2 separate regions of the Homo sapiens genome follow, and region 2 is linked to region 1. Evidence: fine-mapped expression QTL. A gene starts in region 1. The other region holds a variant in brackets. All regions are shown on one strand. Distances are from middle to middle.

Region 1 (5,327 bases):
ATTGCGGGGGTCAAAGGGCAACTGGAACTCCCCAGCGTCTGATTGTGTGCGGACTGTGAACTGAAACTTGCCGATGATGGCGTTGGGGGAAGTGTGGACCCGCAGGTTCAGATTCTGCCCACTGGCCTTGACCACCTGGGCTTTCCAGCCTCCACTGCCCCCCTTGCCCACTGGGATGATCACGTGCGTGCCCTTGCCCACCTCGGGGTTGTTTCCTAGAGTAGGAAATCAGCAATTAGCTGGCAAGGCCTCCCTGAGGAGAGGGGATGGAGCCTGGGACTTCTCCCGGCCCCACCCACAATGTGTATGAGCCACTGTGTATGTCCCTACGTTGGGCCATCACCTTATTCTCTGACAGTCTCCCTTAGAGCAGCTCTGTCTCCACCCAATGCTTGCCCACATGTTAGGGCAGTGCCGCAGTCCAACATCCCAAACCTGTTCCCCTGACACTGAACTCTGAGGTGGGGAGGAGAGACGAGGGCTCCTGTCACCTTCTGCCTGCCTGACTATCACAGTGCCTGGGCTGGAGGGGCAGATCCACCTGCCCCGTATGAAAGGGCAGTCCTGATCCTGAAGGCCAACCCTGCCTGCTTCCTGGGGCTGCAGCTTCCAGAGCCCAGGGCATCCCTGGTGGAGGTGGTAGGGGTTCCTGGGAAATTAAAGGATGAGGTGGGCAAGGTTAGGCCCTAATCAAAGGGTAAAAGGAGTCACCTGCCCCAGGCAGCAGCATAATCACCAGCCTGAGAAGTCAAGCTACACCAAGCAACGCGGTAAGGGAGGCACCTGCCTTGGGTCATGGGGACAGAGGGACAGAGACAGAGAGAGACAGAATTGGCAGAGATGGGGGACATGGAAGGCAAGAGGGAGAGAGAGAGATAGAAGAGAGAACCAGCCACATCCTGGGGAATGAGAACAGATGCACAAAGGACAGAGCAGCAATGCCGAAGGAGGCACCGAGGCAGGCCCTGAAGAGGAGTACTCTGAGACCGATGCCCCAGGAGGCTTGAGGAGGATGGGCTTGGGAAAAACTGCAACACCAAGACCCTCTCTGAGACACAACCCCAGGGGCACACCCACACACTTGCACCTGCCTTATCTGGCAGAGGTGAGGAGTGGGGCAGGGAGGAGCCTAAAGACCTCTCTGACCCTAATGCCAGCCTCTCCCCACCAAACATAGGGCCTTCACCCGTCCCAATCCAAGCCCCACTGACCGATGAGTAACTCAAGGGTGATGCGATCAGAGGATTCATAGGTCCGGGACAGGAGGAGGAGCATATGGAAAGGCTGCCCGCGGCGCACTATCAGCTCGTCGTACTCATACTCGTCTGTGTGGTGCTCTCGGCGGTTCTGGTCCGAGCGCGAGCTCAGCAAGTCCACACCGTTCACTACTAGCATGCCCTCTGCAAGGACACAGCTCCGTGTCAGTGAAGCCCCATGAGGAGCCCAGGCCCTTATCATTAGCTTCCTATCCCCCCCAGAAATGCCAGGCTGAGTCTCTGGTCCCATTAAAGCCTTTTAGCTCTCAGCTGAGGAGGACAGACCGGCCTCACCTCGGATGGTGCCATCTCCAGCTGCATTGACACCGCTGCCCCGGGATACAGGCCGGCGGGAGTCTGAGCCCCGGGAGCCAGGTCTTCGAGTGCCAGAGCTGGACCCTCGACCCCTGGAGTCAGAGGGTTCAGGTCCCCAGTCGTCATCTGCCGCATTTCGGCATGAACAGCAGCCACAGCAGCGAGCCCAGAAGGAACGGCCTCCTCCTCTGCGAGAGCGTCCGTCTGGCTCTGGCTCTGGCTCTGGAGATGGCGTGGTAGGGGGCTGCAAGGGGTTGCCACCCCAACGGCCCACATCGGAACGTGGCCCATCCATCATGCCTGTTAGGAAGAGGCAGGGTGGCTCCTTAACCCAGGTAGTCCCAGCCAGTTGACCCAGAAACCCTCCATCCAGACAGCTGATTCAGTCCCACCCGATGACCGAAACAATCCCACCTTGGCCCAGAGATTCTCCAGACACATCCAGAGACCTTCCGCGAAGACCATTCAGACTCACCCAGAGAAGCTTCTCATGCTGCAGAGAAAAGCCTTCCCCTCACCCCCACCAAACAACATCCGAAAAACTGCCCAATGAAGAAACCCACTCAACGATCCATCCCAGGAAATCCACATAGTTCCCTGCATGGACACTTGTCCCAGCCTCAAGACCCAGCTGCACACACATCAGAGTGCTCCAGCATCCCTGGGCCTGGTCCGTCCACCTGCTAGCTCTGCAGTCTAGAGGTGCACAACACTGACAGCTTCTAGAACTCATTTCTTAGCAGAAATCCCCCAACTCAAGGTTCCTCACAAGACAGACAAGTGACCCCGGGGCCTGTGGTCCTTGGCATTCCCAAGTCAGGGAAGACCCCACTTGGGGCTGCCAGGAGGGGTAGGGCATGGCAGGTGCCCGGAGCCTGTGCACAGGGAAAGCAGAGTCTTGGTGTTGGGAACAGCCTAGCTGGGGCTGACAGGTACACAGCTGGCCCACACCCCACCTTGCTGGATCCAGGCACGGCCTCTGATAGTGTGGGCCGCCTGGACTCGGCACCACAGTACCCGTGGGAGCCCCTCACCTGGCAGCAGTGTTGGCAACCGCAGTACTGAGTCCTGGGGCTGAGATGGAACAGGTCAGGATGGATGGGACAGGACCCACAGACTGGATGCCGCAGGGACAGACCTGGTAAGTGACTTATGTGGGAGGGAGGGGCCAAACTGCTGTAGGGGGCGGAGAGAAGAGGCCAGGCCTCTGGGCGGGAAATGGGGAGAAGATGCTAGGGAGGGAGCAGGGGTGAGGTCTGGGGGCTTAGGCTGGGCTTTGGTGGGAGCCACCGCTGTGATGGCCCCTGGCACCAGGCTGATTCCTACCAGACTGGGCATGTGAGGAGCCCCTTCTCCCGGATGAAGAAGCTGCAAGGGCAGTGGGGCAGGCAGGCCCTTCCACCCACAGCCCTGTCTGGCCGACCTTCTGGTCCCAAGCTTAGGCTGCCTACCTCTGCTCTCACAGGCTCCTGCTGCCGAGTTCTGTGCAGCCCAAGCCAGGCTCAGCCCTATGAAATTGGCCCAGGGGCCTGGTCCTGGAACTCATCCTGCCCAGGGAGGTCCTGGGATCCCAGGTTGCAGACTGGTGACATCAGCAGCCAGGCCCTCAGACTGGCTCCACCAGCTAACCCCTGACCTGCTGGCTCTACCAGATATTCTGACTCCCTCCACCCCCAAGTCTGTCCCTTCTTTCTCAGCTGCTCTACAGCCCCAGGCATGAGTGAGCTGCCCTCAAGTTTGGGATTAGGGAGATCAGAGTAGGAGCAATCTCATTTCACGTCCCCCACCCCCGCTGTAGCCTCGGGGGTTAGGGGATGTTTAGGCCTTTCCACTCAGGCTTGGGTGGGAACTGAGTCCCCCTTCCAGGGGTACAGAGTACCTTTCTCTCACTGAGAGGAGTCTCTGCTCAGTTGGACTAGAGGATTCCCTTTTCTCCAACCTGGAATTCTTCCTGGGAATCCAGACCAACCGGCTCAGGCACCTGTGCTGTGTGCATCCTTACTCCACCCCGTCACTGGGGAAACACTGAGGATGGCACCAAGGCGATCCCAAGGTAGAGAGGAGGAGGCTAGGCATCTTCAGGGAGGCTCTCCTTGGGTCTTGTCCTCAGGCCCGTCAGCCAGGGCCTTCTTCCTTCTTTCCTTCCTTCCCACTAGTGTCCCAGCTCTGCCCATGGGCCGCCTAGCAGAAGACAGTAAAAACAGGCCGACAAGAAGACACAAGGAAACAGAATCCAGGAGGGGCTGTTTGGTGATGCATCAGGCAGGGAGGTGCCGTGGGGAGTGGGGACAGAGAGGCCCCAGGAACTGGCAGGGAGCCCTCCACACCCACACTGCCTTTTCTTGTCCAGCTCCAAGCACCAGAACCTGCCCGGGGGTGGGGGCAGGTGCCCCACCTCCAACACCCTCAGTAGACACACCAGTGGATATAAACTTCCAGGCAGGTCAGCCAGAGGGCTTTGTGCAGGGGCTGCGGATTTGTGCATCACTGCAGATACGGGAAGGGGCAGGGCCCTGGCTGTCCGGACGTGTGTGAGCACATGTGGGCCCAGGCAGATCCCAGAGAACCAGTAGGATGCCTTTGTCACACTCTCTCCCTAGCTTTAATCAATCTTTCTCTCCCCACCCAGCCAGGTTTGAGTCAGTGCCCTAACCCCTGAGCCAGTCCCCTCCCCCCACCACCACTCAGGACTCTCTAGGTCAGGACAAGGTGTGTACATGGTATGTGTGGGGGGACACCATGGGAGCAGACACTCAGCTCAGGACCTCAAGGAGCTGAGGCCAGGCCGCTGCCCAACCATTCCTTAGCAATACAGAAGCAAGAACATGAGTCTAGAATCCTAGACCAAGGGTAGAGACAACTTTGGTTTCAGTGCTGAAGCGCTCCGGCCAAGAACCTTGGGCAAGTCTCAACAGCAGTTTCCTCATCAGTACACTGGGCCTAAAAATCTCATCCCTGAGACTCTGTGAGGATCAAATGGTATCAAGTATTCTCAAAGGTACTTCAACCGTAGAATGCTACTCATGGGGACCGATAGTGTTGTTCAGGCAGGACGGAGCAAGGACACCCTGGCCCATTCCTGGGAACGTGGAGCCCTTGAGCCTCCCCAGCTATGGTGAATGGGGGCCAGGGCAGGGGGAACATGTGGAAGGTGCAGGGGTCATGGGAAAAAATTGTATGATGCTTCCAGCTGGAGAAACTCACAGCTGCTCTGTAGCTTACCAGAGCCAGAACCTGAGCCCAAGCCCTATTCCTGCTTGGAATCTAGACCCAGTCCCAGCCCCCACCCCAAACCAGAAGGTAAACAAAAGCTCAGCCTTCACCCTGAATTCTGCCCCAAACACTGAAGCCTTGGCTCTCTCTGAGAGGAAACAATAGGATGGCGCAGAAAGAAGGAGCTGGCAACACCCCATGTCTCTTCCCTTTCTTTTCAAAAAATAAAAGTGATGAAGGTGGTGGTGTAGTGATAGCAGCGACAACAGCTTGGTAGCCTGAGAGGGCCTCTCCATTCTTTATTCAGTCCCAATAAGTTAAAGGGCAAGGGTAGGGGGCAGGGCCTCTTAGGTGAGGACGCTGCTAACTGAAGGCAGCAGTTCAGCCAGTTGCTCCAAGATGCCCACCGCTTGGCACAGCGGGTTACCCTGCAGGTTGAGGAGGACCAGCCTGGGGCAGGAGGCAAGAGGCTGGAGCACTGCAGGCTGCTGGAGGCCTTGTTCAGGAGAGTCAAGGAAAGCTTGGCAGGTTCCTCCCAATTTA
Region 2 (5,374 bases), 430 kb before region 1:
GTCATTAAAGGAGACATCTCAGTAACAATATTTAGGATGGTCTTACTGTTGGCAGCTTGAAGGTTTCTTCACTCAACACTCCATTTTTACCATAGTAAAAATAAGGATAGGAAAAGAATATGACTCTCTTCCTTTTTGAGTAGGCCAACTAAAAGGGGAGCTAGCAAAGTGAATTTTACATAAGCAAGAACAGGTGCTTTCTCAGGCAAATCATATTTAGGAAAGACCACACATGGAAGTTGAAGATCTGAAAATTTATTTCTTTTTTAAGAAATAATTTTATTGACATACATTTTACATATCATAAAATTTAAGTCTGCAATTCAATGATTTTTGTAACTTTACCAAGTTGTGCAACCATCACATTCGGTGAGTTGTAGAACACTTTCATGGCTCCAGTAAAACCCCTCATGCCCTTTACAGTTGATCCCTCTTCCTAGCCCCAGGCCCAGACAACCTTTATCTATTTTGTCTCTATAAATTTTATAAATTTGCCTTTCTGAATCTTTCATACTAATGAAGAAATTGATTAAAAATATATATATATGGCTACTTACATCTTGGAAAGTCTTTGCATATATACTGTTCTATAACATTCTCTTGCCCAAGGGATGGGACACCTGTCTCAGGCCTATGGTATTTTTGGAAGAATATCTATTCATATCTCTGTATCTCTATAGATCTATTTATATAAAATATTCAACATACAATCTTCTTACCTTTATGGTGAGTCCCAGTTGCTTTGTCTAGGGCACAGAAGGAATCCCAGCAACAGGAGTAGCTCAAGATTGGGCAGGTCCTGGGGTGTCTGGGCAGCTGCTGTTCTCTCTCCTCTCTAAGTCAGGGCATCCTTTCCTTTCTCCTCCCCCTAGGACACACCAGGAGGTCTCCCTGCCCTCTTTCCAGACTTCACTTTGTTGAGTCATCAAAGCCCCAAACCAGGACCGAGACTCCTTCTGAAAGACACCAAATCACATTCTGTCCATCACGCAGGGCGTCTTTCACAGCTTTGCTTACTGCCACAGTGCACGTGGACCTCTATGAGTCACTATGGACTGTGCACATCAGCTCCCAGGAACTCTGGTCCTTTCCTTGCATTTTCTATGTTAACATATGGGCCCACTATCCATTCAGTTGTCTAAGCCAGAAACCGCAGTCAGCCAAGATCCTTCTCACTTCTTCCATACCCAATTGTCACCAAGGCCTGCTAATATGATATCTGCTAGCTTTTAGTTGATCTTCTCCTGATTCCTCAGTCACTGCATTTTGTTGGAGTGGTCATCTGTCTTGCCTGAAGTGTAGCTGTAGCTTCTGTTTTGCTCTTACTTCGAAACCAAGCTGGAGGAACCTTTCCAAGGTGAAAAGCTGATCAAGTTCATCTCATTGTGGAGATTCAACCATGGCTTTCCATTGGCTTTGATGATAAAATGTACATTTCTTGCCTTCCCACACTGGGATTTTGTTGATTTGTTCCTGATTCTTTTCCCTTTGCCTTCACAAGCTCCTTCTACTATAAACATAACAATGTTCTTGCATTTCATACTTGCATCTTCTCATTCGCTGGATTGTTCTACTCTTCCCTCAGACTCAGCAAAGGCATCCCTTCTTCAGGGAAGCCTTATAAATACATCTACTTGGTTTTACATGGCTGTCTCTCCAAACCAAATTTCAATGTTTCCCCTGCACCTCTTCCCACTGCCACCAGGCTGACAATATCTTAAGGGCAGAGTTCGTATTTTATATTTCTCCAGAGTCATTGCACATGATAGATAGCCATTCATTATTTGGAGTTTCTTAGTCTCTTAAAAAATAATCACATCTCTGTCTTAACATGTGCCTTCTGTAGATGCCTTGAGCCTCCTATGGGGTCACGAGGATTGTGTGTTGGGACCCAGGGAGACACAGTGAAGATTCAGCTGGAGAAAGGGGTTGTGCAACACAGCTTATGTTTGTTCTCTGTTAAAACCCGGCTCTTTCCTCCTAAGGAGAGTTCTAGAGCAGCTGTTTTTATTACTAATGGGTCCGTGTTTTGTAGTATGTTCTAAGTACCAAACTAAGGCACATTTGGTGTTTTTATCTTTATGCAAACCCACTGAGGTGGGTGGTGCTATCCCCCCTTGAAACGTAAGGAAGCAATCAGAGAGAGAGAAGTTAAATAACCTGCCCGGCCTATTATAATTATTATTCCTTAGCACTGAGATTTGTCTTCAAGCCGCATACTCTCAACTTCTAAGCCATATGTGTTATGAAACGGATAAAATATTGTGAACTAAAAGGCAAATAATTTTGCATCCTGGCCCAACATGCCT[A/G]TTGAAGTTAGTAGAGTGTCTAAATGCAGCTATGGGTGGGAAACCAAGTGAACTACGAAACCTCTTGCCCCGTCATGTCTTCAAGTGTGCCTCCCCAGTCTCAGCCTGGGTTGCTCTGAACATATTTTCGTTCCTATCATTTTCCTGGTCTCCATTCCAAACACCTTGGTATAGAATATACCTGTTCTTTCTTTTTTTTTTTTTTTTTTTTTTTTTTTTTGAGACGGAGTCTCGCTCTGTCGCCAGGTAGGAGCACAGTAGCGCGATCTTGGCTCAAAGCAACCTCCGCCTCCTAGGTTCAAGCAATTCTCCTGCCTCAGCCTCCCAAGTAACTGGGACTACAGGCGAGTGCCACCACGCCCAGCTAAGTTTTGTACTTTTAGTAGAGACAGGGTTTCACCATGTTGGCCAGAATTGTCTGGATCTCTTGACCTCGTGATCCGCCTGCCTCGGCCTCCCAAAGTGCTGGGATTACAGGCATGAGCCACTGCGCCTGGCCTTACCTGTTCTTTTTCAAGTACTACATGTCTAAGACTTGTTAGCAAGATACAGTCTTCCATTGCCAGTTTTGGAGTCAGGCTTAGATGTGTGGAAACAATTAATCCCTCTATACCAGGCAGTTTCTTTCCAAAGTATGCCTACCTTTATCTGGTTTTCACAAGCTTTAAGTCCGCATATGCTTTTGAAATGAAAAGTGGTTTGCATCCTTGACAAAGTAATTGTCATTAGAACCTAGTCTTGCAAATTTGTTTGACTTTTTAACTTTTAAATTCAGAGCAAATAGTAATATGACTCAGGTCTTGAAGCTATAACTCAGTGTTCTTGCCCCAGGAAAGAACCAGTTGATTCTATCTTCAGGAAGAGAATTTATATACACATACACATTTATATAGTCTACATAGTCTATACATATATATGCACACACATGCATTATATATGAAAATTTTTTGATAACTGCAAATTGCTGTACGCATAATGGGTATATTACTTTGTTAATTTTGTCATTTTGTATACAGCAGCTGTCATCCCATTTGCTATATTTAAGAGTTTTATTTTTCTTAAAATTCCTTTCCTTTCCATGGCTTTTAAAGAAGCAACTTTTTTGCTTCTGTTCTCTCCCCAGTTTACTGTAAAGAGGAAAGGAAAGCATTTCTCTATGACATGCAACACTTTCAGCACTTCTGTGACCAAATGTGTGGGAGTTTTCCTGATACCAACCAATTCTCCTACTCTCTGGACACCAACTGGGCATCCTATAATTCAACCGTGACACCAACTACCTGGAGTTGGTGCAGATGCCACAGGTTAAGGGCTCAGTCCCACAAGACTGCCCCCACTTCAGATGCCAATTTCAAGTAGCGAATCCCCAGGTTACCCACACTTCTATCAGCCTTGGCTACAAATGGAGGGTTCTCACGACTCCCTCCTCAGTTTTGATGATTTGCTATGATGGCTCACAGAACTCAGGGGAAGATGTTTACCAGTTTATTATTAAGGATATTATAAAGGACACAGATAAACAGCCAGATGAAGAGATATATAGAGAGAGCTCTGGAGGGGTCCTGAATACAGAATTTCTGTCCCCATGGAGTTGGAATGCAACCCCCTCCTAGCACATAGGATGTGTTCACCAACCTGGATGCTCTCTGAATCCTGTCTTTTAGAGATTTTTTGGGGGGGCTTTGTCACATAAGCATGATCAATTATAAACTCAATCTCTAGTTCCTCTCCCCTACCTGTTGATGGGGGATGAGAGAGAGTTCCAAGTCTCTAACCATGCCTTGATCTTCCTGGTGACCAGGCTTCATTAAGGAACCCAGCAAGAGTCACCTCATTAGAACAAAATATGCTCCTAGCACCTTTATCACTTGGGAAATTACAAAGGTTTCACGAGCTCTGTCCAAGTTCTGACCAGGGAAGATGACCAAAATAATTTTTTATAAGGACTGATATTTTCCTATGGATCTATTTACTGTAGCCAATTTATCAGCCTGCTCTTTTTGTGTGGTCCCCCTACCCTCCACCCCACAAAGAATAACCCCTCTACTGCAAGTCAGTAATGTAGGTGAGAAGATCTCAGTTTTTCCTTTTAATAAATTCCTACCTGATTTTCAAAAAATCTTATCCAAATAGACTTCAAAGTTTTATTTATAGTATAAGACATGCTGATGAGGTATGGGACATGGTATATGATACATGCAAGAGTAGTTATTTCTGCTATTTAAAGCTAACAAATTTTTTAAGCCAATCTGTCTTGAATATAATCAGGTAGCTCCAAGACTGGATAACCTTTCTTGAAATTAATCTTTCCTTCTTTTTCATAAATTTAAAAAATTCTTAAGACAAACATAATACATTTCCCTTAAATAACTGTCTTAAACCAAAAGGAATTGAATTTGTGAAAGGTCATCTTGATAGATTTATTTAAATAAGTTATAAATTTATTTTAATTAATGTTATTTACTGTATAAAAAATTTTGCCAGTATTGAATAGCAAAGCAATTAATCACAAGCCAAAGCAATATAAATAAAAATATAGTGTAAGACATCTTATTAAGACTTAGAAAAAAAAGTTTCTCACTGAGTAACATGATCAGACTCAAATAAAGGTCTAGCAGTTATAAATGTATTATATACATGTATTAATTTCTTGATCTCTTTTATAGGTCCATATGTGCATAGAAAATAATATTTTTGAAGTTAAAAATAAATAATAAAATTTATGTCTTTCATCTAAAACTTATGCTTACTTTTCCTCTGTGCAAATACTGAACCCTGAATACTGAATTTGTGATAAGCATACATGAATACTATTTTCACCTGAAATGAGATAATATCCCAGTTCTTGATGGTTGTTCAAACAAGAGAAAGCTCACTCCCCTATGTGAAAAGTGGAAAACTGCAGCCAAATGCATATTTCTTTAGGAGTGGTAGAATACTGTTTCACAGAAATCCAAACTTTTCTTAGGTCAGGTCAGTGATTCTCACGTGATTTACTTCAATTCACAAAGTTCTTCATCTTCTTATCAAAGTCAGGTTCCCAGAATGAGCCAAATACTGTATCC

The links. PIP is the estimated chance that this variant, and not a neighbour inherited with it, causes the effect.
Region 2: its variant is the best candidate, but not a certain one, in a credible set for the expression of TGM1 in substantia nigra (GTEx, PIP 0.81).

Annotation. Positions count from the first base shown.
Region 1 is chr14:24,260,484-24,265,810 of GRCh38, forward strand. TGM1 (transglutaminase 1) reads right to left here and starts at 2,694. Exons shown (of 15, transcript NM_000359.3): 1 at 2,606-2,694; 2 at 1,551-1,871; 3 at 1,212-1,400; 4 at 1-215. The coding sequence starts at 1,869. RABGGTA (Rab geranylgeranyltransferase subunit alpha) reads right to left here. Exons shown (of 17, transcript NM_182836.3): 17 at 5,055-5,280. The coding sequence ends at 5,132. RefSeq lists promoters at 1,869-4,869, 1,869-3,622, 1,877-2,072, 2,633-4,299, 2,682-5,199 and an enhancer at 3,169-3,177.
Region 2 is chr14:23,833,992-23,839,365 of GRCh38, forward strand. LINC00596 (long intergenic non-protein coding RNA 596) reads right to left here. Exons shown (of 4, transcript XR_429343.4): 4 at 4,732-5,374. Among named protein-coding and RNA genes, the nearest start is that of LINC00596, 66 kb to the right of the region's middle. The variant A/G (reference allele first, on the strand shown) is at 2,310.